5 linked regions of the Homo sapiens genome follow. Changing the gene in region 3 together with the main gene of any one other region gives a genetic interaction. Each region holds a gene or a part of one and is shown on either strand. Other genes may lie near its edges.

Region 1 (5,967 bases), on a different chromosome or scaffold from region 3:
AAAATGAAAAGAAACCAACCTCTTTTTTCTTCTTCTCGTTTTAGTTTATCTTCCTCTATTTCTTTTGGCAATTTTTCCTTTCTCTCTTTCTCCACATCATTATGCAAATGTTTTGTGGTATAGCTGAGTGCCGGTGAAAGAAGAATCTCTCCATTTTTGCAGAGTTCATCACGAATTTTAATAAAAAACTGCTGAAGTTCTACTGCATCTTCATATATTTCTGAATCTGTCCTATAACAGCATCAAGAGTATCCATTGACATACAAGCTGTTTCTTTTAAACACCTCAATTATATGTTAAATTCTATTAAATGCTTCTTTAATTGATATAGTGGTATTTCTGTACAGGTCTATGAAGAGTATCTTTCCGAAGTTTGTTAGAACAAAATCCAAAGTGTCATTTTACCATGGTAAGCCCCATGCCCACCATTTTCCTTTACTTCAAGGCTCACTTCTTGTACAGCTCATGAAAAACGAAAGGCCTCATGTATTTTCTCTTGGAGATATATGGCACACGCATCAATCGATTCTGGCAGGGGAAGGTGGCTGCCAGAACCAAGAATTGTACCAAGGCTCCACAATATGTTCAACACTTACTCGTATCTATTCTTTGAATTTTTACTTTCTCTTAATAGCAGACCGATGTGTTACATAATAGGCTCTATTTTCTTCCTTTTGGTCCTACATCATGGTTGCCTAGGCTAGTGAGACCCTGTGAATATCGGAACCTAAAGCAAAGCCATGAAAGTATTCTATAATGGTTACAGGCCTCAGAGTTAATGTTCATTTTAGTTTCCCAGAAATAACTGTGTAATTCTGGGGAACCAGCAAAGGCAACATAGTGAAAGATGGAAAAAAGATTATGTATGTCATACCCAGAACTTTTCTGAGTCTCCTTCCTCATTTATGAAATAAAGCGGCCAGGCATGGTGGCTCATGCCTATAATCCCAATGCTTTGGGAGGCCGAGGCGGGAGGACTGCTTAAGGCCAGGAGTTTGAGACCAGCCTAAGCAACACAGCAAGACGCTGTCTCAACAAAAAAGTAGCCTGGCATTGGGGTACACACTTGCAGTCCTAGCTATCCGGGAAGCTGAGGCGGGAGGGTCACTTGAGCCCAGGAGTTCAAGGGTGCAGTAAGTTATGATGGCACCGCTGCATTCCCACTCTGGGCAACAGAGCAAGACCCTGTCTGTTAAAAAAAAAAAAATCAATAAACAGGCCAGTTGTGGTGGCTCACACCTACAATCCCAGCACTTTGGGAGGCCAAGGTGGGCCAAAATGGTGAAACCCAGTCTCTGCTGAAAATACAAAAACTGATGGTGCACACATGTAATCTCAGCTACTCAGGAGGCTGAGGCAGGACAATCACTTGAACCCGGGAGGTGGAGGTTGCAGTGAGCCAAGATCGCGCCGCTGCACTCTAGTCTGGGCAACAGAGTGAGTGAGACTCTGTCCCAAAATAAATAAATAAATAAATAAATAAATAAATAAAATGTGGGGAGTGGGCAAAATAAACTTCAGACTTTAGAATTTTGACTGGAGGAAATTTTATTACTGTTTCTAGTACCACTGTGGTCTGAGGAAGGTTTACATACAATTGTTTTTATTTCATTTTATTTTGAGGCTGGGTCTTGCCCTGTCACCCAGACTGGAGTGCAGTGGCGTGATCACAGCTCACCATAGCCTCAACTTCTTGGGCTCAGGCTGGCTAATTTTAAAATTTTTTGTAGCAACAGGGTGCTCCCTGTGTTGCCCAGGCTGGTCTCGAACTCCTGGCCTCGAGTGATCCTCCCTCTTCAGCCTTCCAAAGTGCTTAAATTACAGATGTGAGCCACCACACCTGGCTGGCATAAATCAAATTCTATTAACTAAGAATACCAGAGTCTAAAAACTTATTCACAAAACTAACCACAAAGGTCTTAGCAGTTACAGAGACATTCTGGTCAGAGGAGTGTGGCCAAGTAGGCCACCTACTGATACATGCCACTAGAGCATCAAACTTCAGAGAGGTCCCCAGAATGCTGCTCCCATCAGCAAAGGTGAACTGACAAACAATTAAAAGACACGATCAATAATCTAAATGGGTGTTTCCGGAAAGTCTCTTTTTTTTTTTTTTTTGAGATGGAGTTTCGTTCTTGTTGCCCAGGCTGGAGTACAGTGGTGCGGTCTCAGCTCATTGCAACCTCTGCCTCCCAGGTTCAAGCGATTCTCCTGCCTCAGCCTCTCAAGTAGCTGGGATTATAGGCACCTACCACCATGCCTGGCTAATTTTTGTACTTTTAGTAGAAACGAGGCTTCACCATGTTGGCCAGGCTGGTCTCGAACTCCTGACCTCAGGTGATCCGCCCGCCGTGGCCTCCCAAAGTGCTGGGATTACAGGTGTGAGCCACTGTGTCCGGCCTTGGAAAGGTTTTAAATATCTTTTGGGGTCATAGAAATGCTAATACTTGTAGGAAAGCAATAAAAATAAAACTTACCAAGGGAAGACACCCCTGAAACACTTTTTTTTTCTTCTTGAGACACAGTCTCACTCTGCTGCCCAGGCTGGAGTACAGTGGCACGATCATGGCTCACTACAGTCTCAATCTCCTGGCTCAAGCAATCCTCCCACCTCAACCTCTCGAGTAGCTGGGACTATAGGCATATGTCACCAAGCTTGGCTGATTTTTTAAATTTTATTTTAAGTAGAGCTAAGGAAGGTCTTGCTATATTGTCCAGACTGGTCTCAAGCTCCTGAGTGCAAGCCATCCTCCCACCTTGGGCTCCAAAAGTGCTGGGATTACAGGTGTGAGCCACTGTACCTGGCCCCTAAAACATAATTTTATGTTTGTTTTCTGAATGAAGATATTTGAATTCTGTTCACTTGAAATTAAAGTTCATTTTATAATAGTGTACAATTTTAAGTATAAAAAGTGAAAATTTCTGTAAATTAAAAGTAAAAAATTTTTGTAAAATTTTTGTAAATACCTTTCATGGTATACTAAAAGGGCAGATCATAATTCCATCATATCGCATGGTTTAGAAATGAACATTCTGTACAAGAGTCACTAAACACCTAGTATATGCTTTTGTTTATTCAAAGCATTATAAAGAATTTATTAGTCTACGAGGTCAGGTATTCATTGAATGTGCAGGAACATAAACGCAAGCTGGAAAAAGAACTCTAAATTCCCCTCAATTGGTAATCTTTTTATATAAGGCAGACATTCAGCAAAAGGAAATAATTAAGAATACAGGAGGCTCTTAATGCTTCCCTTGTTCATCTTCCCACAGGTCTCTTTTACCTGCAAGGGGATCAGAGTGTTTAGTCTGGGAATACTGCCAGCAGTTTAGGAAAGCCAGCAGCCAACTGGCATGAGTCAGCACTGTGCTGTTACTAAATACTGTTGATGGACAAACTATTGTCACCTGAGTGAATTTTTCTCTTGTTACGTCTCACTGTTCAGATTCCTTCTATTTTAGCCTGTGAAGTCCTAGGTGATGTTGGGTAGCAGTGGTGGGTAGGGGTAGGGGTAAATGGTGATGAAGCATGAAGACTCTTAGAGATCAACATGGAAATCTACGGTATGTAGACTTCATTGAATTTATGAACTAATATTTCTGGGATGCCTAGCTTTGTTACTGATAATATAGTAGATAAAGGCATAGTTTATCATTCACTAAATTGATGCATCTCCATCAATTCTTATTAAGTACTTATTCTTAATAAGTACTATAAGCAATCACAATACTATCTTTGTTCACAAAGTTAAGAATGGCTCCCCGTATGTTTTTCTTTAAAAAATTTTTCCTAACTACTAAATTACCAGGGATCCCTTTTGTTTTTCAACAAAGCTCTGGGCATGAGGGTAAAACTGTGTGCATCACTATCTCATAAAAATACACCTTGGACTCTATCTTCCAGGCCTCAAAAGCAAAAAACAACCATGTCAACAATGGGAGAATGAAAAGAGCTAATTTCCTAGAGATACAAATCTTAATTCTTAAAATAAACATTTCATCTATAAGACATAAACGAAGTTCCTAATAATCTAGAAGACAAATACTCATTGAAAGACTCACAGAACTAACACCAAGATGTAATGGGGCTAAGCAGGGAGGAGAGGAAGGGAGGGGTATTAGACTTAAGGACTACTTAAGCCAAGAACAAGAACAGAAAGAAGTCTAAGCTACATGAAAGCAGAGTTTGTTTTGCCCACTGGTGTATTACATGCATCTAGAATATGCTCATTAAGTAGCCTCTCAATAAATATGTGTTGAATAAATGAGTAACTCCAAGAGTTTTTGACTGCAAGATGTCCCTCCATCCTTCTCTTTATTTCTACTCAATTGCTGAAGAACCATATTATTAAGGACCATTTCTTAAAAGTGTCACACATGGGCCTCACCAAACTGGCCCCAACTCTATCCCTGTCTCTTAAACATATCATATTCATTTCCTAACTCCATTTCTTTGCTCATAACATTCATCTTATTTGAAATATCCTCTGGCCTATTCATTTGAACCCTACCTATCATCCCATGCCTTTTAAGGAGAACTGTGGCCCACAGAGTTCCTTACATCACCATCTTTACTAAATATAAGGTTGTGGCATGTTGTCTCATGTGTGGAATTATTTTTCCCTTAAGCGTAAGTCCTGGCCCATCCATCAGACTTCAAGCTTTTAGAGCACAGAGCTCAAGGCTTATCATCTATGGCCGTGCTCCATGACTTGTCCTGGTAACTGGCTCAGGAGTAGCCCTCTGCAGTGGAGAGCAAGACAAGTCACATCATTTACTAGTTGTAAGACTATGGGTAACTTTTCTCTGCCTATGCCTCTAATTCTTTCACATGCAAACTGAAAAGATTATCACTTATCTAGAATGGCTATCATAAGGGTTAGAGATTGCCTTCATAAAGTGCTTAGCATGGTGCTTTACGAAGAGCTGGTGCTTAACACAAGCAGCAAATGTTACTATGTTTTTTTTCTTTTATTTGCAAAGACACTGAAAGCAAACATTACTACTTGCTTTTCTTTAAAGGTTCAGAGCAAATTCTGATTTCATAGATTCCCCAGCTGGCATTACACTGCCTGAAGGTCTAGTTCTAAACATGATAGGCTGTAAGCTCCAGGAAGGTAAGGTTTGTATCTTTTTTTTTTTTATATTTTTCCAACTGTCTCTAAGTGCACATATAAAATACACTGTAATTGCTGAATTTAATAGTCAAGTCTGCTATTGACATGTAGCAACGATATATCACAGATAAAAATTAGAAGGAAATTTAAGTTTAAAGTAAATCTAAATTTGATTGCTTCTTTTAGAACATTTAATGTCTTCAGCAAGCTCTTAAGGTGAGAAACCTGAGATTAAAAAAAAAAAAGAAACCCTCTGAGGTACTTAAAATGGTGATCAAATTTCTATCAGTCTAACCTCAGGACAACACCTTAGAGCTATTTTATTTAAAGCATTCGTGCACTGAAGCCAAACCTTAAAAGAAAAACGCTGTTACTATTTCCAATTAGAAACATTTATCTTTTTAAAAAACACATTCTATGAAAGGCTGTATTTTAAGTTTATGCTTTTCAAGAGATTTTCAATTTTGTCTTCCTCCTCACTGGCCTTAAACTAGATGACTTAGTGGTGTGCCTTCTCTCCCCCACAGAATATACTCACTCTTAAGAAGTTCTGGCTGATTAGAATTCAGAATAGCATGCTACCAACTACAAATCATGTATGTAAGTGGAAATAGTACATCAAAGCAATATTCTTTCATCTGTTTTGTATTAAATAGCACATATCCTCAAAATAAAAATGGCTTTGAAAACATACCGATTCATCCTTCTTGCTCGTTCCAATACTTCAAACATATGCTCTTGAAATAAATCAAGCCGACGGTAGCGATTATTTTCAACATTCTTCCTAATTATGTCAAATGTAAGGGGTGGTTTGTTAGGAAAGTTGGGATCCACAGCAGGAATTTCTGCT
Region 2 (5,967 bases), on a different chromosome or scaffold from region 3:
CGCTGCCTTAATGGTATTACAGGCAGGGGTGTGCACCACCTAAACCCCAGACCCTCAGGCCCCAGGGACGATCAGAACACAGGGAACAGGGTAGCGAGACTGGCAGGGAAGCCCCCGGGTGTGCCTTGAGGAGGCTGGCCCCGCAGAAGACAGGGCGGCCGCTACTCCGCACTGGGCCCCATCACGACCCCAGGAGCAGGGAGCAGCCTGGGTCCCAGTGGGTCTGCCTGAGCCTGGCACGGTGCAGAGTACCCCAAAAGGACAGTTCCAGGCCCTGGGGGGCTGTCCAGGAGCTCCCAGCTAGAGAAGGCTGGGAGCACCAGTGCATGAGCTTGGGTGAGAAGCTGCCTGCAGGCAGCATTGGGAGCCCCCCAGCACGCCTGGCTGCTCACCAAGATACCGAAGCACGGCTTCCAGCGGCTTGCGTACCGCCTGCTTCAGCACCAGCGGGCTCTGGGAGGCTTCGGGCAGCCGCGCCGTGCCTGCGGGGTACCACACGGTGTGAGGGGTGGGGCACCCCCAGGGGAGCACGGGACCCTGCCTGCGCCTTGACCTGGGAGCCCTCACTGGGCTCGGCCATGTCAGCACCGAGGAGGACGTGGGGCTCCCTGAGATCAGAACTCCCAGTGGGGCTACAGGCTGGGCCCCAAGGTTGCTGCTCTCTCCCCACCACCCGCAGGAACAGAGTAAGCGGGGCGTTGGGGTGACTCACACTCGGCCTTGATGGCCGCGCTGTTGATGGGCAGGTAGGGGTGCCGCGCAGCGTGCCACGGGCGCAGGATCTCACGGCACAGGCGCCGGGCGATCCGCGTCAGCTTCGTCGTGTGCAGATAGAAAGCCTGCCTGGTCTTCATGGCAAACTTGGGGCTCCCGCTGCTCCGGGCTGGGAGGCCGTGGGGACTCTGCGGAAGGGGGCGCAACCGCCCCAACACAGCGCCATGACCGGGGGCCGAGGACCCGCGTGGCCGACAGGCTCATGGCAGGCAGGGCGGGTGTCCCCCCCCTTACCATGTTACTGCGGTTTGGTCCTGGCCTCTCTCCATCTAACCGGGTTGGCATTTTCAAGCCACCATATTTCTTCCAATATGTCCAACAAGATGCGCAGAGACGACACTGCATGTTAGGGGGACCCCAAGAATACCACTGGTAAGACTGTGTGGCTACGGACAACAAAGTTGGAAATAGACGGATTCTTAAGCAGAACCAGCGATGTCAGAGTATTCCCCGCCACCCCCACGCCGGCCGCCCCCACCCGCCAGGCACCCCCACACGTTCCCCGAGGCTCTCCCAACCACACCCCTGGGACGCAGCCCCCATCGTCAGTGGGCCCCTTGCAGGCTGGGCCATGCTGGAGCCCTCAGGGCCAACGCAGGCACCACGGCCCACAGGCGGGCGTGCGGTGTGCCCCCGGCCATCCAGGGCACTTACTGTAACAGCTCTCGCAGGCCCGGCCAGCCCCAGGGCTCTGGCCCGGCGCCCCCGTGCCGTTCACCACACCGGCCTTGACGTTGTTGACGCTGATTTGGTTCGGATTTGGCTTGTTACTTAAAGAGGGAAAGGAGAGACGAGAGGAGTTGCAGGAGCACAAACCTCGAGGGCCCATGTGCCCAGCAGGCACCGCGGCTGACCACCCCTTGTCCAGAACCACGTCCTCGCACCCCTCGGCCTCGGCAGGGATCTTCCTTTCTCCCCTTTCAGTTCCTGGGAGCCACTGCTGAGGTCTGAGCCGTTCTCCAGGCCCCCGTGCTCCCCCTAGCATGGAGCCCAGCTCAGGGACTGAACCCTGGCGGTGTGGGCTGGAATCCCAATGCCCCCTTACTGACCAGGAGGCCAGGACGACAGAGACATGGCCACTGCGTCTGCAGCCAGAACCCCCCAGCCCTGGGCCGCCCTCCCGGGGGCTGCCCCAACTTTCCCAGCCTCTGAGCTTGAGTTTCCTTGGGACCCGCCTGGCCCCAGCACCCTGTGCCCACCCTCCCTGGCCCCCGGGGCCACGAGGACGACGGCTGTGAGGGCACACTTACTAGTTGGGAATATAAACTTGCTTTAACTTGCTCTCAGCTTCAGCTGCTTTCAAGCGTTTCTTAAAACAAAAGAGAAGGTCAGAGGTCAGCAGGCTAGGCCCAGGTTGGGGCTGCAGTGCAGACAGGCTGGAGGCTACGGAGAGGAGAGCACCACGGAGAGGACAGCCGGGCCAGGGACTCAGGAGTCTTCCTTCCCCTCCTGCTGCAGCAGTGCACGCCCACCTGCTGGGAGAGGATGGGGCGCAGGACGGGGAGGCGGCACACCCCGGGCACTGAGTGGCGGGCGGGCTCACCTGCTGCACGTATCTGTCGGTGGTCTTCCACATGTAGTAGTACTCAATGATGCTGGTCAGCGACTTCCACGGGAGCTGGGTGGGAGGAGGCGTGTCACACAAGCAGGAAGGGGCAGGAGGCAGGCACACCATGCAGGCAGGGGCAGGGCTGCGGCCAGAAGGCCACAGAGGGGGCGGGAGGCCAGAGGGCGAGGTGTGCTTGGTGCACGGAGGCCAGGCCCCTGCTGGCAGGCAGGTGCAGAGGGCAGCTGATGAAGCAGGTCCCCCCGCCAGATGCCAAAACACAGTGACGCCAGGGGAAGAGGAGCTGGCACAAGGTCAAGGTCGAGATCTTGCCGAGGTGGCACTGACAACCCAGCCTCCATCTCAGCCTTTTTTTTGTTTGTTTTTGAGACGGAGTCTCGCTCTGTCACCCAGGCTGGAGTGCAGTAGTACAATCTCGGCTCGCTGCAACCTCTGCCTCCCGGGTTCAAGCAATTCTCCTGCCTCTGTCTCCTGAGTAGCTGGGACTACAGGCACCTCTCAACACACCCGGCTAATTTTTGTATTTTTAGTACAGACGTGGTTTCACCATGTTGGCCAGGCCGGTCTCGAACTCCTGACCTCAAGTGGTCCACCCACTTCGGCCTCCCAAATGGGATTATAGGCATAAGCCACCATGCCCGGCCATCTCAGCCATTTTTGTTTTTGAGACAGAGTCTCGCACTGTCGCCCAGGCTGGAGTGCAGTGGTGCGATCTCGGCTCACAGCAACTTCCACCCCCGGGGGTTCAAGTGATTCTCCTGCCTCTGTCTCCCGAGTAGCTGGGACTACAGGAGCCTGCCACCATGCCCGACTAATTTTTGTATTTTTAGTAGACATGGCGTTTCACCATGTTGGCCAGGATGGTCTTGATCTCCTGACCTCATGATCCTCCTGCCTCGGCCTCCCAAAGTGCTAGGATTACAGGCATGAGCCACTGCGCCCGGGCTGTGGCATGGATTTAAGAAACCTGTCTTATTAAATAAGGGTTCAGATAGTTCCTCAGTCTGGTCCACTGCATCTGGCAGGAAGGAGAGCGGGGCCTGCTCCCTCGACACAGCCCCGAAGCTGCAGCCTCCCATCCCCGCACCTGGACAGGGCCCCGCAGCCGCAGCCCCCCGAGACCGTGCCTGGGCATGGCCCCGCAGCCGCAGTCCCCTGAGCGCTGCCTCGCTAGGCATCACGTGGGCTCAGCACTGGGGTCTCCTCCGCTGGAACCATGTGCAGCAGGGTCTCCCTCAAATTCCGCCCTGGTCTGAGCCTAGTTGGTGAATTTTGTTTCTAGCCCTCGTCCTCTTGTCTGAACATGTTCTGCTCATCTTGGTTTGTTTTTAAGCCTGGAGAGATCCGTATCCGCCTTGGAGAGGCCGCTGGCCCCAGGGACAGTCAGGGACTCCTCCCGCCCGGCCAAGCTCTCCCCTTGGCCAGAGGCCCCCACACAAAGCTGCACTCCTGCCCCCAGCAGATGCGTCCTCAGGAGCCTCACAGCTGGCTGCTGTCCCTCCTCCTCTTCAGGTCTAGGCACCCTACCCAACCCCATGTTTGTTTCTTCCGAATTCCAGATGCGTCTCCAGCCTCTGCTGCGCTGGCCTGTGCGCTGCTGCCCGGATGGTGCTTTCATCAGATACTAGCCACCCCGCTGTGTCCCGGCCCCTTTGGGGCTCCTCCCTGCCCTGCCACAGTCTCCACCTCCCCAGGGCTGATGGTTGGGGGCCCCACCACCCCCACATAGGGATGCTCTTCTAACAGATTAATTTAGAAGTATTTTAGGAGGGCTGACGGTTGGAGGGTGGGGGTCCTGAGGTGGAGGTACAGGGAAGGGAGACCCCACGCCATGAAGACTCTCTAGGCCTGCTGCTGGGCTAAACTCACGTGAGACAGAAAACAAGGACATGAGGAGTCAAGAGGTTCAGCTTAGTCAAAAACAAAGCAAAACCAAGCCTGGGGCTGGAGGGGGCAGCAAGGAAGGGAAAGTCTCCGTGAGGATACCCTGGCCTCCGTCACCTGGGCCAACCCTTATCCTCATCACGCAATGGTGGCAGGAGCATGGCTCTCTATGCCCAGGCCCCACCAGCGCCCCCATGCCTGTCTGCTGAACCAGTGTGACAGGAAGGACTATGGCGGCCGAGCGCAGCTGAGACAGAACTCATGCAGCTCCGCACAGGGAATCAGGGTGCAGGACAGGCTCCCTCAGGGCAGAGTGGGATGTGGAGCCCACACCCCCGCAGCCTACCTGGAGATGGGCATGGCCAGCCACTCCCCCATCGCCACCCACGGTACTCACAAAATCTTGCTGAATGTCCGTGAAATCCTTCCCATATTTTTCCAGGGCTTCCTCGAAAAGGTTGGCCTCTGATGCAGACCACTCCTCCATCTCGTCCCTGCAGAGCACGGGCCCGCCCTGCGGCACCAGCGCCGAGATGGCCTTGGAGATGTCGTAGATGTTCTTGTGGAGAGTATCCATGGCGTGGAACTGCGGCAGGAGACAGCAGGGTCACCCGGGCCAAGGTGGCTTTTCCTGCACCTGTGGCACGGTACCCCCTCCCTCAGTACCTCAAGGATCCCCTACTGCAGGCCCAGCAGCACAACCCTCCCTGCACCCTCAGCACAGTCTGGCCGAGTTTGGGGTGGATAGGAAAGGCCAGTCCAGGTGGGACAGCACCTCTGCAGGGGTCCTGAATACCTGGGGCAGGTGCTGGGCCCTGGTAGGAAGAAGGGCGCAGCCACTCTGGGCCATGGGCCACCCCAGGTCTCACCTGTCCCGCCCTGGGCCCACTTACCAGGGTGATGTCTCGGGAGGCAGCTGCGGCGCTCATGTGCAGGCTGGGCTGTCGGACGGAGCTGCTGCAGTCCAGGGCCCGTGCGAAGGTGCCCACAGAGCTGGGGAAAGGAGATGCGCTGACCACAGTGTCGGCCAAGCAGGGACTCCCCACAGGCACACCGCTCCCCAGGCGCCAGGGACCAGCGGCCACGGGCAGCACGGACTCCCCCAAGGCACACCACTCCCCAGGTGCCAGGGACCAGGGGCCATGGGCAGCACGGACTTCCCCCAGGCACACCACTCCCCAGGTGCCAGGGACCAGGGGCCATGGGCAGCACGGACTTCCCCCAGGCACACAGCTCCCCAGGTGCCAGGGACCAGGGGCCATGGGCAGCACGGACTTCCCCCACGCACACCGCTCCCCAGGTGCCAGGGACCAGGGGCCATGGGCAGCACGGACTTCCCCCAGGCACACAGCTCCCCAGGTGCCAGGGACCAGGGGCCATGGGCAGCACGGACTTCCCCCAGGCACACAGCTCCCCAGGCGCCAGGGACCAGGGGCCACGGGCAGCACGGACTCCCCCCAGGCACACAGCTCCCCAGGCGCCAGGGACCAGGGGCCATGGGCAGCACGGACTCCCCCCAGGCACACAGCTCCCCAGGGACCAGGGACCAGGGGCCACGGGCAGCACGGACTCCCCCCAGGCACACAGCTCCCCAGGGACCAGGGACCAGGGGCCATGGGCAGCACGGACTGCCCCCAGGCACACAGCTCCCCAGGCGCCAGGGACCAGGGGCCATGGGCAGCACGGACTCCCCCCAGGCACACAGCTCCCCAGGGACCAGGGACCAGGGGCCACGGGCAGCG
Region 3 (5,967 bases):
AGGCCAACGCAGGTAGATTGCTTGAGCCCAGGAGTTTGAGACCAGCCATGAGCAACATGGTGAAACCTCATCTCTACAAAAAAATACAAAAATTAGCTGGGCATGGCATGTACCTTTAGTCCCAGCTACTCAGTCCCAGGCTGAGGTGGGAGGATTGCTTGAGCCTGGGAAGTCAAGGCTGCAGTAAGTGGTGATTGTGCCACTGCACTCCAGCCTGGGCAACAGAGAAGGAAAAAAGAAGAGTTGCTGCACCCTTGCAAAAACTATGAAAATTCCCTTAGAACAAAATCATGGTCCACTGTGAGTTTTGTACCAGGCAACATACATAGTATTACCTAGTGCCAAGAGTTTGATCATAGAGAGAAGGGTTTTAACAAAACCAGGAGGCATAAGGTGAGCACTTTAAAAAAAGGAAAAAGCAAAATTATTTTTTGTCCTCTTCCCTCCTCCGCCACCCCAAATGCACCTAACTTTAAGGAATGCGCCAATGGTAACTCCAAGCCAAAATGTTTACTAGAGACTCTGTTCTGTCTTCATTTTTTTAGTAATATTTCTAACTCTTGTTTTTTAGCTACAAGGATGGCATAGTGGTGATAATTGACATCAGTAAGAAAGGAGAAGTTATTCATAGGCTTCGAGGCCATGATGATGAAATCCACTCCATAGCCTGGTGTCCCCTGCCTGGTGAAGATTGTTTATCTATAAACCAAGAGGAAACTTCAGGTAGAGATGGTTTAAGGGAAAGTTAAGTCCACTTGAGACCTGAAGAACAGAACGGGTACAATTATATCATTTTTTATTTATTATTTATTTTTGGAGACGGAGTTTTGCTTTTGTTGCCTAGGCTGGAGCGTGATCTCGGCTCACCGCAACCTCCGCCTCCCGGGTTCAAGCGATTCTCCTGCCTCAGCCTCCCGAGTAGCCGGGATTACAGGCATGCGCCACCACGCCCAGCTAATTTTGTATTTTTAGTAGAGACAGGTTTCTCCATGTTGGTCAGGCTGGTCTTGAACTCCCGACCTCAGGTGATCCACCTGCCTCAGCCTCCCAAAATGCTGGGATTACAGGCGTGAGCCACTGCACCAGGCCGAATTATATCATTTTAATTATACCTAAAACTTCAAATTTTATAGTTCAGACCTATGAAAGAGATAGCTAAGTTTTGGAAACTCTTGCAAACTAATTTTTTTATATTAGTGCGTGTTTAATGTAAATTAAAAACAAAATTGCCACCTATCTCATAGAAGAAGCTGAAATTACCAACGGGAATGCTGTAGCACAAGCTCCAGTAACAAAAGGTTGCTACTTAGCCACTGGAAGCAAAGATCAAACCATTCGAATCTGGAGCTGTTCTAGAGGCCGAGGTAAGATTGATCTTTCTTTTGTGATGTAACCTATGTTGATCTGGTGGAAGTAGAGGGTTTTCTGTTCTTATTGTCCTGAGGGTGTGTCATCTATTTGAGAGCAGTTCTTCACTTTTTGGTCTAGAATTCTGCTTCCTCATTTGAGCCTGGCCTAGACTCTCTATTCTCTCAACATCTGGCCTTAGAGATTAGTATTTCCCATGCATTCCAGGAGAAGACAAGGATCTCTTGCTTTATAGAAGGGTCAGTGTTTGGCATGGAGAGCAGAATATTTGTAATAAAAACAGGAATATTAGAACATGATATGGCCTAAGCCAGGAGAATGGAAAATATCTTAAGAGTTAGAGCTTTTAATGCACAAATGCAGAATAAATTACATACACCCAGCATAGAATTATGTGTAAAAGCTCATTTTATCCAAATTATAGAGCCCCTCAATCATTTAGCTTTCCCAAATGTCTCTTTGAACAGAACTTTTATCTTTAAGTTTAAAAATTGAGAGAAACTCTAGGCATAATGAATATTTATAGTATATCATAGAATATAACCTTTATAGTAAAAATCTTGTTTTTCTCTTTCTAGCGGGCTTCTCTTCTTTCTTCATTTTATTTTATTTTTTTTGGCAGTTTTTTAAGCTGTGGTGGAAAATATAACATTTGCCATCTTTATCACTTTTAAGTGTACATTTAAGTGGTATGAAGTACACTCTAAAGTTGTGCAACTGTCACAGCCACCCATCTCCAGAATTCTACTCTCCATTTCCCCCTCCCCCAGGCCCTGGCAACCATCATTCTGCTTTCAGCTCTATGATTTTGACTACTCTGAGTATTTCCTTTGAGTGAAGTTATACATATGATATGTCTTTTTGTGATTGGCTTATTTCACTTAGCATATATCCCCGAGGTTCATTGATGTTGGTACCGTATGTCAGCATATCCTTCCTTTCTAAGGCTGAATAATATTCCATTGTGTGTATGTCCCACATTTTACTTACCCACTCATCCACTTGTTATAAATAAAATTTCGGTGTGGCAAAAGAAATAGCACTCAAATATAAAACTTTCTTTTTAATTCTCAGCAAGGCAATGTACTTCTATAGAAGGGTGCGCCCTTACAGATGGAGCAATGGTGAGCGCACACTTGGACAACGGAGGGGAGGGGTTCTTATCCCTGACGCATGTGGCCCCTGCTGCTGTGTCGTTCCCCTATCAGCTAGGGTTAGACCGCACAGGCTAAACTAATTCTGATTCGCTGATTTAAAGAGAGTGCCGGGGTAAGTGGTTTGATGGGAGAAAATGGTTATGGCAGGAAAAATGGTTATGGCAGAGCAGGAAATCAGAATGAGTCAGGGTGGAGCAGGTAATCGGAATGAGTCAGGATGGAGCAGGTAATCGAAAAAGGTTGCTTTTACGAGGAAGTTAAGTTTAAAAACAGAAGCCAAATAATTGAACATACTGACATATTGATTCTTTGAAGAGAAATTTAGAACTCATATCTCACACACTGATGGACATTTGGGTTGCTTCCATGTTTTACTATTCTAAATAATATGCTATGAGCATGGATGTACTTTCTACTTTATTTGAAACCATGATAGTTTTATCATATTTGCCCAAATGCATGTAAAGCAAGTAGCACAGCACTTGGAATGTCATCCAGGCTTCATCAGTGGTAGGTAACTAATAGTATAATTTGGGAAGACAGAACTTTTTTAAGGTTTACAGGCTACTTCTTGGCATACTGCAGCTAAAACTCCAAGTGGGAACATAAGGCTGAGGATCCCTCCAGGAGGGTAACCTCTAGACTTAGAGGTGTCTGGTAAAATGGCCTTCAATTGTGGTTGTGCAGCAGAATCAGCTGGAGAGTCTTTGGAAAAATGTAGGTTCTTGTACCCCACCTCAGATCTACTGAGTCCGAATCTCTAGGAGTTAGGCCCTGGCGTATGTATTTTTTAAAGTTCCACCTGTGGTTCCGATGCACAATACAGCTTAAAAAACGGTGATTAGAAGCATGTCGGGTGGAGGTACTCCCCACCCACAGCACGTTCACTGCCAAATTTTTCTTTGTTGGATTTCTTGCCGACTAGAAATAGTAATCCCAACCTCTGTCCTTTTCACTTTGGAGTTATGTCACTGCAATACTTTTGGGTACACAACTCAGCTGTGTTACTAGCTGGGTTCTCAGTTTTACTTGGGAACTCATTTTCCCAGACGAAAAAATACTCTTTTTCTTTTGAGGCAGAGTCTCTCTCTGTCGCCCAGGCTGGAGTGCAGTGGCACGATCTCAGCTCACTGCAAGCTCCACCTCCTGGGTTCATGCCATTCTCCTGCCTCAGCCTCCCGAGTAGCTGGGACTACAGGTGCCTGCCACCACGCCCGGCTAATTTTTTTGTATTTTTAGTAGAGACAGGGTTTCACCATGTTAGCCAGGATGGTCTCGATCTCCTGACCTCGTGATCCTCCCGCCTCGGCCTCTCAAAGTGCTGGGATTACAGGCATGAGCCACCGCGCCCGGCCAAAAAAAAAAAATACTCTTAATACGTTGAGGTTGTCAAGATAGCCTGTCGAAGCTTGTTTGACCTAAATGTAGCTAGACTAGTATTAACCAGTATTTATAGTGATTAAAATTATAACCATAATAATGGTTAAAATTGTAACCATTGGAAAATGAGATCTGAATTCTAAGTAGCCAAACTAACAAGCTTTTACAGCGCAGACTGTGTGTTATGAACCACCGGTGACTTCATGCATGTAGTTTCACTGTCTTGAGTGCCCACTGGCCTTCTTTTTAATCTGCAGGGGTGATGATTTTGAAATTGCCCTTTCTGAAGAGAAGAGGAGGGGGTATAGACCCAACTGTTAAAGAGCGCCTTTGGTTGACACTCCATTGGCCCAGCAATCAACCAACACAGCTGGTATCTAGCTGTTTTGGGTAAGTCTTTTTTGGTCATGCTTTCTCAGATATATTTTGTTTTTCTATTTGGCCTCAAGTCCTCCTAGGATGGAGAAAGTAATGGCCAAGGCTTGTATTATGATGGGCCATTTGAAATGGAAAAATTATGAGACTAATGCCTGTGCTATCTACTAACAGAGCTGTAAAAAGATCACATAAGTATAGTCCGGCAGTTAGGAATATGGACTCTGAAGTCAGAACTAAATTTCAGAATCACTTTGTCACTTACTGCCTTGTATTCCTGAGCAAGACCCTTTACTTTTCTGAGCTTCAGTCACTTCAAGTGTAGAAAGGGGAGATGGTTATAATATTTTCTCTTAGGTTGGATGGCTATGCCCATTCAGTAAACAAAGTTCATTGACTACCTACTTCTAGTGGCTGGAGATAAATCTGTTTAAAGGGTAGTCCAATATACTCACATGGTTCAAGAAGAACGAAAGTATATAATAAACTGTCTTTCTGTCTTCCCTAGCTACTTGGTTCCCCTTTCTGTGATTAAATTTTTTTTTTTTTTTGAAACAGGGTCTTGCTCTGTCACCCAGGCTGGAGTGCAGTGGTGCAAACACAGCTCACTGCAGCCTCAACCTCCTGGGCTCAAGCAATTCTCCCACCTCAGCCTCCCAAGTAACTGGGACCATAGATGTGCACCACCATGCCCAACTAATTTTTTTAATTGTTTGTAGGGACGGTCTCACTTTGTTGCCCAGGCTGGTCTTGAGATCGGGGCTTCAAGCAATCCTCCTGCCTTGGCCTCCTAGAATGCTGAGATTACAGATGTGAACTACTGCACCCAGCCTTCCCAGAGATATTTTGTGCATATTTTCAGCATATGCAATTTTTCTCTCCTTAAACGACAACAAATCATTTTGCAGCTATGAGCCCAGACTCTGTCTCAACAGTCACTTGTTTTCAGATCGTTTGTAAAAGAACTAATGCTTATGTTTTTCCTTCACAGAGGTGAACTGTTGCAATGGGATCTCACTCAATCTTGGAGACGGAAATACACCCTCTTCAGTGCCTCATCAGAAGGGCAAAATCATTCAAGAATTGTGTTTAATTTATGTCCTTTACAAACAGAGGATGACAAACAGCTATTACTTTCTACATCAATGGATAGAGATGTAAGAATGCTTATTTTCACTCAGCATTGTAGAGCAGCAGTTTACAACTTGGGTGGGATGAGAGGGCTTTTTCAAAGCACCTGTCAAGTCGTAATACTCCACCCCTGACTCCAATTTCAGAGTTACTGCTACAGATCAGCACTGAATATATCAATAGCTCACATGTAAGGAGAATGTGAAGACCCACCAAAATAGTTTTTTGTTAAAGCAGACATAATAAAGAAGGGTAGTTTTGCCCAGGGAAGGATGTATTAGGTCAAGCTTGTCCAACCCACAGCTCAGGATGGTTTTAAGTTCATCAGCTGTTGTTAGTGTTAGTGTTTTTTTTTTTTCTGAGACAGAGTCTTGCTCTGTCTCCCAGGCTGGAGTGCAGTGGTGTGATCTTGGCTCACTGCAAGCTCCACCTCCCCAGTTTTACGCCATTCTCCTGCCTCAGCCTCTCGAGTAGCTAGGACTACAGGCGTGTATCACCTACGCCCAGCTAATTTTTTGTGTGTGTTTTTAGTAGAGATGGAGTTTCACTGTGTTGG
Region 4 (5,967 bases), on a different chromosome or scaffold from region 3:
TACCCCATAGCCAATGCATATAGATCTGGCCTCTTCTCTTTTTCTTCTTGGCAGATTTTGTGTACTCTTCTTTCCAAAGCTTGACCCAGATTCAAAACTTTTGGGTACCAAGGAAGTATTTTTGTTAGCACAATCAAGATATTCCTGATGTGAGTATATTCGCCTGTTTCAAGGCAATGTACCGATGCCTACAACAAACATTTTCAGATCCATTATTATAAAAGCACAAGTATACAGAGAAAAATTTGCCTTTGAAAAATCCAATTTTTTTTTTACCTTGGTTAGTTTGTAATGCCATTTATGTACAACATGTCGAAAATTTTCATAGTCTAATTGATCAGCCTTATTTCCACCATCAAATCCAGTTGCCCGTAATATGGTAAGGAATCCTGGATAGTTTCCACATTCCTAAGGAAACAATGTTTGTCACTTTTAAAGAAAAATTATGATCCACAAAATAGCAGAAATTGAAACTTAAGTAGACTAGATCAATGTTTCCGTGTAAAAACATCATGCGTATTTGGATAGGTAGTCACAAAAAGTTCAACTTATACAAAGATACTAATTTGGAATGTCAGTTTGAGATAGAATAAAAAAGTACATAGCACATTTTAATAACAAATTAATTGTGCTTATAAACACAGTTTTACAACTGAATCTTAAACTCAGCTTCTCTTTTAAAACTCAACTATCTAGATATTAATGGATGTGGTCATTATATACATGGGTAAAATATAAGGGTTTTTATTAGTCATACCTTTTCATATGTGGCTCTATCACTATGCCACCTGGTCACAGTCTCTAACATGCAGCAAAGAAACCTTCCGTATCGACTGGCTTCATTTTCAGTACAGCTTGCAACTGTGTAAATTATGTCAGAGAAAACCTACAGGAGAAAAATGTTTAAAAAATATAAACAAATCAAGGTCAAAATCAGTTAAAAATATTAGAAGATTCTCTTACAGCAAGTCATAATAAACAGGTAAGCCTAGTCAAAATGTATATTCCCTTTATATAATGACACTGCAGAGAACTTTGGAGATTTTGGCTTTTGTGGGGAAATAATGCATTCATAAAACAACCACCCAAAACAAGAACTTTTATAAAGAAAGCTGATTTACAGTGACAAGGAAAAAAAAATTTATCATTATTATTACATAATAAGTTGTTTTTTTTTTATTACATAATAGTTTCTTAACCACTTAGCCATACATATTACTGGGTTTACGGGGAGAGTAAGCAGAGGAAATGCTGATAGAAATTAAAAATATGCAGCTGACATACTGGAACATACATTATGTTTTTTGTTTTGTTTTGTTTTGTTTTGAGACTGAGTCTTACTCTGTCACCCAGGCTGGAGGGCCGTGGTGTGATCTAGGCTCACTGCAAGCTCCGCGTCTCAGGTTCACACCATTCTCCTGCCTCAGCCTCCTGAGTAGCTGGGACTACAGGCACCCACCACCACACCCGGCTAATTTTTTTGTATTTTTTTTTTTAGTAGAGACGGGGTTTCACCATGTTAGCCAGGATGGTCTCGATCTCCTGACCTTGTGATCCACCCGCCTCGGCCTCCCGAAGTACTGGGATTACAGGCATGAGCCACCGCACCCGGCCACATTATGTTTTTAAACCACAAAATGTAGTAATAAGAAAAAAGCTAAATGCAAAATGTGCATATGACCATACTGAAAAGCTTCCCTGCTTTTATATGTGTGTGAAGGTGTAAACTTTTTTGTCTTTTTTTTTTTTTTTGAGAAGTGAAGGTTAAGAATGGAGAAGAGAGTTCTACCTATTATGATACAACACGTAAACTCAAATACTTAGTTAATAGTTTAACCTTGAGTGCCTATTACATATCAGGTACTTTTTATGTGTAGTGATTCATTTAATCCTCACAACAATCTTATGAAGCAGGTACTTATGCTTTACAGATAAGAAAACAGGCACAGAGAGGTTAAATAACTTGCCAAAGATCATACAGCTAGAAAGTAGTAGAGCTAGGATTCAAGTTCAGACACTTGGTTCTTGAGTTCATGCTTTTTAACTAAACACACAATAATACCTCTATAAATTATAATGTTAGCTATCTTTGTGTGAGAACTTTTTAAAGGTTGCAATAAAAACTTACTCGATCATAGCAAAGAAGTGTGGAAAAATTTGGAGTTTTCTGTTGATGTACCAATTCAACAAAACGAGCACAGTAAACAGCATCAATTGCTGAAAAAATACATCGAGGAAATATACACAGCTGTAGAAATTTTGTGATGGTCTCATTTTTGGTAGATTCTAAAAATAAAGGAAGAATATATTAAGTGGTAAACTTCTTCCCCAAGTGCCTCAAAGCCACTAAACATGACAACATATTACCTTTAGTGAAGAGAATACTATAAACCACAAACTATTTATAGTTTGTAACCAAATGTCATGCCTGGTCATGATTATCATTTTTACTATGTGGACCTTTTTTTCTATGATTTCTCCAGAAATATGTTTTATACAGAAAAGCTGAATGACAAGCTGCCAATATGTAGTTAAAAGTTAATTAACTTCACCAGCAAACTATATCAGTTCCTCCAGTGAACATGAAGTTGATTCTGCATTAACAAATAACCAAAGAATGGGATAGGGAACACTGAGTTGAAATACAAACATAATACACTTTAACACCTCTAAAGTTATAATGTTTTGTTTTCTGTAATTTACCAGCATCAGGAACCTAACAATTCCAACAACTTACTTGCTAAAAGCCAGTTGTCCTTTTCCAGTTTCAATCTCTGTAGAACTCTCTGTACATGTTCCATCTGTTTCTTTTCTTCTTCAAGAAGCTTGTCCTGAAGGGCAGTACAGCGCTCCTTCTCTTTTTTCTTTTTATTTGGGGGCTACAAAGAATTCAATTAGACACTTTTCTAACTATATGCACATTACCTTTCTTCTTTTAATTGAAAAGTTTAAAGAGATAAAGGCTGATAGTTTATAACTACTTTAACATGAATATAGGTCCACTTGAACGTGCTACTTTTATCTCCATTCAACACACTCATAACACTGTCATGGCATCTTCATACACCATCAGAACAGGCTACATTTGCAACACTGACACTATTAGTCTCAGGCATGGTGTCATCTTTGACTCTTCCCTCTCCTTTATATCAAGACTGGTTTACAAGCCTTGTACACTGCCACTACCTCCATCAGTCTATGCTCTCACAATAGACTGCCCAAAAAGCCACCTAGCTGGTCTTTAGCCTAATGCTAGTCAAAAAGCATCTTTCATACTGCTGTCATGAGTAATCTTTTTTAAGTACCATTTTTTACATTACTATCCTGCTCAGGAATCTAAAATAGCTCTCAATTTTACCAAGTCTACTTTTCTCCCTGACTTCCAATGCCTACATAATCTGGCCCCATCATAACTATTCATATGAATCACTAAGTACATTCACTACATGAAAGTGAATCAGTAAAAGTGGTCTCCCTAAACCTCAATCTACTTCCTGTCTTTGCTGGAACCCTATGGTGACCTCCCTATCTGCTTCCATATTTCCAAACCTAATCTACCTTCAAGGCCTGTCCATTTCAAGACTCGGCTTCTCAATAGTCTTCTCCTAAAGAACTCTCCTCTTGAGAACTACTGCTCTTGCTATTAGAGTCACATGAATCACTTTAAGTTACTAGCATAGTCGTCAGTAGAAAAGGACACTCAAATAATTTTTGATTAATCATAACCTCCACCTAGTCACCAAACTCCTGGCCCCCCACTCAGAAGTAACTATTAAACCCCATTTAAGAAAATATTATATAGCAACAAGATCACTGTTTTAAGGAACCAGAGCTAAAACAATTTCAAAATATAGGTAACATTGAATACCATAAAGTTATTGCACTTGAACTACTAGAACAAAAACCTACCATTTCCTGATTGTCATCAATTGCTTTCATCTGGACTTTAAGTTTATTGACTTCTCGTTCATAGCTGGTGTGTGGAACTGCAAGGTCATACATTGTCAATGACCAGAATGTAGCATAGAATTGAGGGCTGATGTCATCCCAGACTTTGGAAACATGTAAGGAGACCACTGCTTCATGGACAGGCGCCATCACCATCTCACATGATGTAATGTACTTATGAACTTTATGTTGCTGTTTACTTCCCTTTTCTGATTTTTTAAGTTCATCATACTTTGACTGTAGATAAAAAGTAAAAATACATACATACATACACACACAACATAATTTATAGCTTTGACTTTCATGGCATAAAAATCTATATTCCCTTCTAAAGAATCAAAAGATGACCAATCTCAAAACTGTTGTAGAAATTCTAGTTTCTTATGAACAACGTTTATTTTAAGATAAATCATCTCTGGAAGCTATTCCAGTCTTTAGTACTGTGTGCCAACTAGGAGATTCTCAGAGGGTTCTTATCTAATCTGACCTGTTGAGTAAAGTGAACAGGGTATATGCATGTTCTCCTCTTTCATTCCCCCACCCTACTCCCTCTTGCTGCTGTATCAGGGATTGAACATGTAGGGTTTCCAGTCCTGCTTTTGAGATATTCAAGGGAACAAATAGAAGGTCTTAACATGAGAAAAGAGGAAGAATGGAACTAGTAATAGCCAACTAGGACAGAATGTAGTATCACTACATGCAGACCCTACCAACTGTTAAAATTTGTCAATTAAAAAGCTGGATCAAGAGACCAAGGCGGGCAGATCACTTGAGATCAGGAGTTTGAGACCAGCCTGGCCAGCATGTCAAAACCCCATCTCTACAAAAAATTAGCCAGGCGTGGTGGCGCAGGCCTGTAATCCCAGCTACTTGGGAGGCTGAGGTGAGAGGATCACTTGAACCCCAGAGGCAGAAGTTGCAGTGAGCTGAGATCATGCCCCTTCACTCCAGACTGGATGACAGAAGGAGACTGTCTCAAAAAATAAAAATTAAAAAAAAAAAAAAAGCTGGATCAACACTAAGAAAAGTTATGAGAAATTTGTTTTAAGACTGCTAAGTAGGGTGACCAATTGTCAGGGTTTGCTGGGGATTCAGGGATTTCTGAGGATTTAAGACTTCAGTGCTAAAACTGGGAACATCCCAGGCAAACCAGGACCAACTGGTTACTCTACTGCTAAGCCAAATAAATTTTTCTGTGAAAAGCTGTGGTATATTGAAGTTTAAAGCATGTGAGAACTGATGCTGCAGCTTCTTTCGTTTGACTGGTTTATCCTAATTTGGGGGAAAAAACAGAGGAATGCCATATTCTTAATTGTATGAGGAAAAAAAATTGTTAGTACAATGGGAGGGGCTGCAGAGATGTGTATGCCAAATATATTATACATATATATACACACACAAAAATATATATATTTTTTCTATATATTCTATATATATGAAGATAACATATATATGAACATATATATTATACATGAACACACACACACACACACACACACACACACACACACACACATATATATGAAGATAACACAGAGTTGCTGCTATTGTTTCACATCCTTCAGTCTCTTTAGGATGAAAGAGCTCTCATCCAGAAAATTTTGTTTAAGTTAGGTATCACCCTTCATACGAACCTAAAGGAAGTCCTAAAACTAGTTACTTCCTTACGTTAGAAAATCACTTAAATCATTCTATTTGTGCTAAACACGTAACCCAAAACGAGATGATCAAAGGTTCTGCTTCCAGTTCTACACTGTGATAGGCAAAAGAGTCTCAGCTCCTTACAGCTCAGTTACCTGCCTTCCTTCCTGAGTGCTCAATTTTACAATTGTTCTAGAATTTTACAATTGTTCTAGAAGTGGGAAGATTTATGCTCTGTTATCCCCATTTTAGAGAGCATGCTGACAACCACTGAGACCACGTAAGTGACAAAGCTACAAAGAACATTAGTTACGAAAAAGGAGTCCCAATTGCATCAGAAACCTGAGGGAATAGCAGTTGGGAAAACAGAGAGTGTTT
Region 5 (5,967 bases), on a different chromosome or scaffold from region 3:
GGCGAGATCCTATCTCAAACAGGCTGGGCACAGTGTCTCATACCTGCAAACCTAGCACTTTCGAAAACCGAGGCAGGAAGATGGCTTGAGTCCAGGAGTTCCGGATTAGCCTGGGCAACATGGTTAAGACACTGTCTCAAAAAAAAAAAAAAAACCCAACACCTGGGCCGGGCGTGGTGGCTCACACCTGTAATCCCAGCATTTTGGGAGGCCAAGGAAGGCAGATCACGAAGTCAGGAGATCGAGACCATCCTGGCTAACAAGGTGAAACCCCGTCTCTACTAAAAATACAAAAAATTAGCTGGCATGGTGGTGGGCGCCTGTAGTCCCAGCTACTCGGGAGGCTGAGGCAGGAGAATGGCGTGAACCCAGGAGTGGGAGCTTGCAGTAAGCCAAGATCGCGCCACTGCACTCCAGCCTGGATGACAGGGCGAGACTCCGTCTCAAAAAAACAAAACAAAACAAAACAAAAAACCAACACCAAGCACTTTAGGAGGCTGAGGCCAGAACATCACTTGAGGCCCGGAGTTTGAGACCAGCATAAGAAACAGAGAGAGGCTGTTGCTACAAAAATTTTTTTTTAAATCCCAAAGTGAGGCCGGGTGCGGTGGCTCACGCCTGTAATCCCAGCACTTTGGGAGGCCGAGGCGGGCGGATCACGAGGTTAGGAGATCAAGACCATCCTGGCTAACACGGTGAAACCCCATCTCCACTAAAAATACAAAAAATTAACCAGGCGTGGTTGCGGGCGCCTGTAGTCCCAGCTACTGGGGAGGCTGAGACAGGAGAATGGCGTGAACCTGGGAGCCAGAGTTTGCAGTGAGCCGAGATCGTGCCACTGAACTCCAGCCTGGGCCACATAGCGAGACTCCGTCTAAAAAAAAAAAAAAAGAGACTCAGTCTAAAAAAAAATCAGCCAGGCGTGGTGGCGCATGCCTGTAGTCCCAGCTACTTGGAGGCTGAGGCATGAGAATCGCTTGAACCCAGGAGGCAGAGGCTGCAGTGAGCCAAGAGCGTGCCACTGCACTCCAGCCTGGGCAACGGGGTAAGACTCTGTCTCCAAAAATAAAAAACAAAAAATTAAAAATAAGGCCGGGCTCAGTGGCTCATGTCAATAATCCCAGCACTTTGGGAGGCCGAGACAGGTGGATCACCTGAGGTCAGGAGTTCAAGACCAGCCTGGCCAACATGGTGAAACCCCATCTCTACTAAAAATACAAACAGTAGCCAGGCACGGTGGCGGGTGCCTGTAACACTAGCTACTCGGGAGGCTGAGGCAGGGGAATTACTTGAACCCAGGAGGCGGAGGTTGCAGTGAGCCAAGATCGTGCCATTGCACTCCAGCCTGGGCGACAAAAGCGAAACTCTGTCTGAAAAAAAAAAACAACAAATAAATAAAAATAAAAATAGGCCAGGTGCGGTGGCTCACGCCAGCACTTTGGGAGGCTGAGGCAGGTGGATCACAAGGTCAAGAGTTCAAGACCAGCCTCGCCAACATGGTGAAACCCCGTCTCTACTAAAAATACAAAAATTAGCCAGGTGTGGTGGCATGCGCCTGTAGTCCCAGCTACTTGGGAGGCTGAGGCGGGAGAATCACTTGAACCCGGGAGGCGGAGGTTGCAGTGAGCCAAGACCACGCCATTGCACTCCAGCCTGGGTGACAGAATGAGACTCCGTCTCAAAAAATAAAAATAAAAAAATAATAATAATGGTAAAATAAAATATAAATAAATAAATAAATAAATCCCAAAGTGTTGGGATTACAGGAGTAAGCCACTGTGCCCAGTCCACCTAGACCACAGAAGCAGTGCTGGAACCTACATAATAACCTGTATTAGTCTGGAGGGTTTTTTTTAACCTCAATACAATTCCCTGGTGTAGAAGTCACTTGGTATGCAACATGAAACTTTTCATTCATTGGTTTTTCAAATGAACAAATCTTTTAGATTATGTAACTCCCAATGAACACTTCATAGATGCCTCCCTTCTCCCTTTTATACTGAAGGGAGAATAGAGAAAATTATTCTACATCCAAATCTTCCAGGCCCTTGGGCTCCAAGTCCTCCTCTTGGCAACAAGTCATGAAGGATTCCTGGGCACCTCACTGCTCTATGGGGATCCCACTTGGAGTCTACTTTCCATCAAATGCTGAGAGAAGAGTGATCGATTTTTTCAGTAGCTCCTGCCCTCAGTTGAGACTAATTATACTGAAAGCATGGACAATTGTCCAAGGGAAGAAATACCAACCCGGTAAACTGGTTTGCTGTTGTGGTTTCCGATGCCAATCCGCACAAAACATCCTGTGACAGTTTTAGCAAAGAAGGGCATGTGACACCAGCGTTCTAGCTTATGCCGTGATAATCGAACCCGATTCAATTCTTCAGGTAAGGAAACTGGTTGGGATTTGGGAGGGATCTCTTCTTTCCTAAGAGGAACAAAGGGGCACTGGAAAAAATGTTCATCATAAAAACAGAACAAGACAGAAAAATAATATCAACTCCTCAAAACTTAACCAAAGTACATGTGACTGGCCTAGGAGGAGAAGTAAATGAAGCACCAGCAAAGACTTGTAATAGGATCCTGTTCCTGACCAGTAGTATGAGCTGTTTCAAATGAGGCTGCCATCTTAGATAACCCATCAGAGTAAGAAAATGAATGAGCCTGTAATCCCAGCACTTTGGGAGGCCGAGGCGGGCGGATCACGAGGTCAGGAGATCGAGACCATCCCGGCTAAAACAGTGAAACCCTGTCTCTATTAAAAATACAAAAAATTAGCCGGGCGTAGTGGCGGGCGCCTATAGTCCCAGCTACTTGGGAGGCTGAGGCAAGAGAATGGCGTGAACCCGGGAGGCGGAGCTTGCAGTGAGCCGAGATCCTGCCACTGCACTCCAGCCTGGGCGACAGAGCGAGACTCCGTCTCAAAAAAAAAAAAAAAAAAAAAAAAAAGAAAATGAATGAAAGCTCCAGGCCAATCTGAGAATGACACGAAGTCAGTTCCTACCTTCCAGGCCCAGGTGAAATGTCTAAGCGTACAGGCTAGCAGCCAAATGAATGGGCTGACGTGCTGGGGAACTCAGTTCAGCAAACCAAAGGTAACCATGTCAGAGTTAGTGGCCCAACCAGGGAGATTTTGGAAACGATACCAAGCTCTTCCTCAAAAACCCACCTATCCTGCCTACTAGACCAAAATGTACAAGAGCTTACTCCTCTTCTTCATCAGACGATGATGTTCGTGATGAGCGGTCTGACTTTTCACTGGATTTGTCATCCTCTTCCTCCTCTTCATCATCAGAGTAGACCTCACTGGTTTTTAATGGCTGTTTTTTGGCAAGGAGCTCAGCTAGAAAGAAAGAAGAGATGTTTACCTAGGTTTTCTCAACAAGAAAATGAATTCATCCTTGAAAAAGAACTGGAAATGGAAGAGGACTCAAATACACAGCTCCGTCCTCTCTAGACTGGATTGTGCTAACTTGGGGTATATACAGAAATGAGTTAAAACACAGAGTTAAAATTATTCAGGTGCCAAATGTCAGGCCCCAGCAGATGAAAAAAGGGCTGGAAGATTGATACTAGGTGGGCAGAAAGGGTCACCAACACTACTGACAGTTCTCTTTTATGGCACTCAAGACACTTGACTATGGGGAGGAAAGAGGGGGAAAGACTCATGATGACTTCAGAAGCTTCTGAGGAAAATTTAAAATAGGAGAGTGGCTAAATCACCACTGGTACATCTACCAATGAACTACTATGCAGCTATAAAAAAGGAACGTGGGGACGGGTGCGGTGGCTTACGCCTGTAATCTCAGCACTTTGGGAGGCAGAGGCAGGTGGATCACTTGAGGTCAGGAGTTCGAGACCAGCTTGGTCAACATGGTGAAACTCTGTCTCTACTAAAATACAAAAATTAGCCAGGCATTGTGGCCGGCACCTGTTATCCCAGCTACTTGGGAGGCTGAGGCAGGAGAATCGCTTGAACCCGGGAGGCGGAGGTTGCAGTGAGCCAAGACTGTATACCACTGCACTCCAGCCTGGGCAACAGAGCGAGACTCCATCTCAAAAAAAAAAAAAGGAACGTGGCCAGGCATGGTGACTCATGCCTGTAATCCCAGCACTTTGGGAGGTCGAGGTGGGTAGATCACTTGAGCTCAGGGGTTTGGGACCAGCCTGGGCAACATGGTGAATCTGCATCTCTACCAAAAATACAAAAAACAAACCAGGAGTGGTGGCTAAAAAAAAAAGAGAGAGAAAACTGTGTATAATATGCTACCATTAATCTAAGATGGCAGGTTAATCTGTGTACTTACGATTTAAAAAGAAAAAAGAATAATATAAAAAAATTTTAGGCTGGGAGTGTTGGCTCATGCACTTTGGGAGGCCAAGGCAAGGCGGATCACTTAAGGTCAGGAGTTCAAGACCACCCTGGCCAACATGGCTAAACCCCATCTCTACTAAAAATACAAAACAAAATTAGGTGGTGGTGCACGCATGTAGTCTCAGCTACTCAAGAGGCTGAGGTGGGAGAATCGCTTGAACCCGGGAGGTGAAGGTTGCAATGAGCCGAGATCGCGCCACTGCACTCCAGACTGAGTAACAGAGAGAGATCCTGTCTCAAAAAAGAGAGAGAGAAAAAGATGGATGGAAGGAAGGAAAAATAACTGCAATGGATTAAAACACATAAAGCACGTTAAAAATGATGAGTTCACAAGGATATTCAAAATAAATAAAACCCATCAGTCATCTTTGGAAGTTGCTAAAAACTATCTCTCTCTCTCTCTTTAAAATATTGCAGAAACAGGGTCTCACTATGTTGCCCAGGCTGGTCTTGAATTACACATGTGAGCCACTGTACCTTGCCAGGAACTATCTCATTCTTTCAAAAACTGGTAAACGAAAGGAAAATTAATCAAGCATTTATCTTGCCTTTCCTGTTCAAAATGTGCCTGGGGGGTAACTAAATAGCTGATTAGAAGTTTCTCTTTAGGCCGGGTGCGGTGGCTCACACCTGTAATCCCAGCACTTTGGGAGGCCGAGGCGGGCGGATCACAAGGTCAGGAGATCAAGACCATCCTGGCTAACATGGTGAAACCCCTTCTCTACTAAAAATACAAAAAATTAGCTGGGCGTGGTGGCAGGTGCCTGTAGTCCCAGCTACTCAGGAGGCTGAGGCAGGAGAATGGTGTGAACCCAGGAGGCGGAGCTTGCAGTGAGCCGAGATCGCGCCACTGCACTCCAACCTGGGCGACAGAGCGAGACTCCGTCTCAAAAAAAAAAGGTTTCTCTTTATAGAAGCAGGCTAGATAATGAATGAGGAAAGAATGACAGATTCGAAATATCACCATTTTGCAACTCCTAATGAATTAAATTATCTAGGTAATGACCATCAGTGGCTACTAGGACAGAACACGTTATTATTTCTTTTTCTTTTTTTTTGAGACAGAGTCTCACTCTTGTTGCCCAGGCTGGAGTGCAATGGTAGGATCTTGGCTCACTGCAACCTCCACCTCCCGGGTTCAAGTGATTTTCAGTGCCTCAGCCCCACAAGTAGCTGGGATTACAGGCATGTGCTACCACGCCTGACTAATTTTTGTACTTTTAGTAGAGACGGGATTTCACTCTGTTGGCCAGGCTGGTCTCCAACTCCAGACCTCACGTGATCTGCCTGCTCTGACCTCACAAAGTGCTGGGATTACAGGTGTGAGCCACCGTGCCTGGCCTGGCTAATTTTATTATTTTTAGTAGAGATGGGCTTGCACCATGTTGGCCAGGCCGGTCTTGAACTCCTGGCCTCAAGCAATCCTCCAGCCTCAGCCTCCCGAAGTGCTGGGATTACAAGCGTGAGCCACTACACTCAGCCCCACATTATCTTTTGTTGTTTTTTTTTTAAGATTGAGTCTCACTCTGTTGTCCAGGCTGGAGCGCAGTGGCGGAATCTCAGCTCACTGCAACCTCCGTCTCCCGGGTTCAAGG

What was found.
Region 1: changes in GEMIN5 (region 3) and PBRM1 together harm fitness less than expected from each alone (positive genetic interaction), as found in Homo sapiens cells (one large-scale study listed by BioGRID).
Region 2: changes in GEMIN5 (region 3) and MTA1 together harm fitness less than expected from each alone (positive genetic interaction), as found in Homo sapiens cells (one large-scale study listed by BioGRID).
Region 4: changes in GEMIN5 (region 3) and THOC2 together harm fitness less than expected from each alone (positive genetic interaction), as found in Homo sapiens cells (one large-scale study listed by BioGRID).
Region 5: changes in GEMIN5 (region 3) and RTF1 together harm fitness less than expected from each alone (positive genetic interaction), as found in Homo sapiens cells (one large-scale study listed by BioGRID).

Annotation. Positions count from the first base shown.
Region 1 is NC_000003.12:52,603,502-52,609,468, forward strand, and holds part of PBRM1 (protein polybromo-1), read right to left. Parts: coding exon 5,812-5,967; intron 232-5,811; coding exon 20-231; intron 1-19. UniProt on the Homo sapiens protein: Involved in transcriptional activation and repression of select genes by chromatin remodeling (alteration of DNA-nucleosome topology). Required for the stability of the SWI/SNF chromatin remodeling complex SWI/SNF-B (PBAF).
Region 2 is NC_000014.9:105,459,609-105,465,575, reverse strand, and holds part of MTA1 (metastasis-associated protein MTA1), read right to left. Parts: intron 5,219-5,967; coding exon 5,119-5,218; intron 4,812-5,118; coding exon 4,623-4,811; intron 2,393-4,622; coding exon 2,318-2,392; intron 2,084-2,317; coding exon 2,025-2,083; intron 1,545-2,024; coding exon 1,429-1,544; intron 1,161-1,428; coding exon 1,009-1,160; intron 903-1,008; coding exon 713-902; intron 483-712; coding exon 393-482; intron 1-392. UniProt on the Homo sapiens protein: Transcriptional coregulator which can act as both a transcriptional corepressor and coactivator. Acts as a component of the histone deacetylase NuRD complex which participates in the remodeling of chromatin.
Region 3 is NC_000005.10:154,926,855-154,932,821, reverse strand, and holds part of GEMIN5 (gem-associated protein 5), read left to right. Parts: intron 1-571; coding exon 572-723; intron 724-1,244; coding exon 1,245-1,364; intron 1,365-4,162; coding exon 4,163-4,295; intron 4,296-5,271; coding exon 5,272-5,437; intron 5,438-5,967. UniProt on the Homo sapiens protein: The SMN complex catalyzes the assembly of small nuclear ribonucleoproteins (snRNPs), the building blocks of the spliceosome, and thereby plays an important role in the splicing of cellular pre-mRNAs.
Region 4 is NC_000023.11:123,623,784-123,629,750, forward strand, and holds part of THOC2 (THO complex subunit 2), read right to left. Parts: intron 4,186-5,967; coding exon 3,910-4,185; intron 2,880-3,909; coding exon 2,738-2,879; intron 2,287-2,737; coding exon 2,129-2,286; intron 887-2,128; coding exon 758-886; intron 409-757; coding exon 277-408; intron 189-276; coding exon 4-188; intron 1-3. UniProt on the Homo sapiens protein: Component of the THO subcomplex of the TREX complex which is thought to couple mRNA transcription, processing and nuclear export, and which specifically associates with spliced mRNA and not with unspliced pre-mRNA.
Region 5 is NC_000015.10:41,467,630-41,473,596, reverse strand, and holds part of RTF1 (RNA polymerase-associated protein RTF1 homolog), read right to left. Parts: intron 3,341-5,967; coding exon 3,205-3,340; intron 2,426-3,204; coding exon 2,248-2,425; intron 1-2,247. UniProt on the Homo sapiens protein: Component of the PAF1 complex (PAF1C) which has multiple functions during transcription by RNA polymerase II and is implicated in regulation of development and maintenance of embryonic stem cell pluripotency.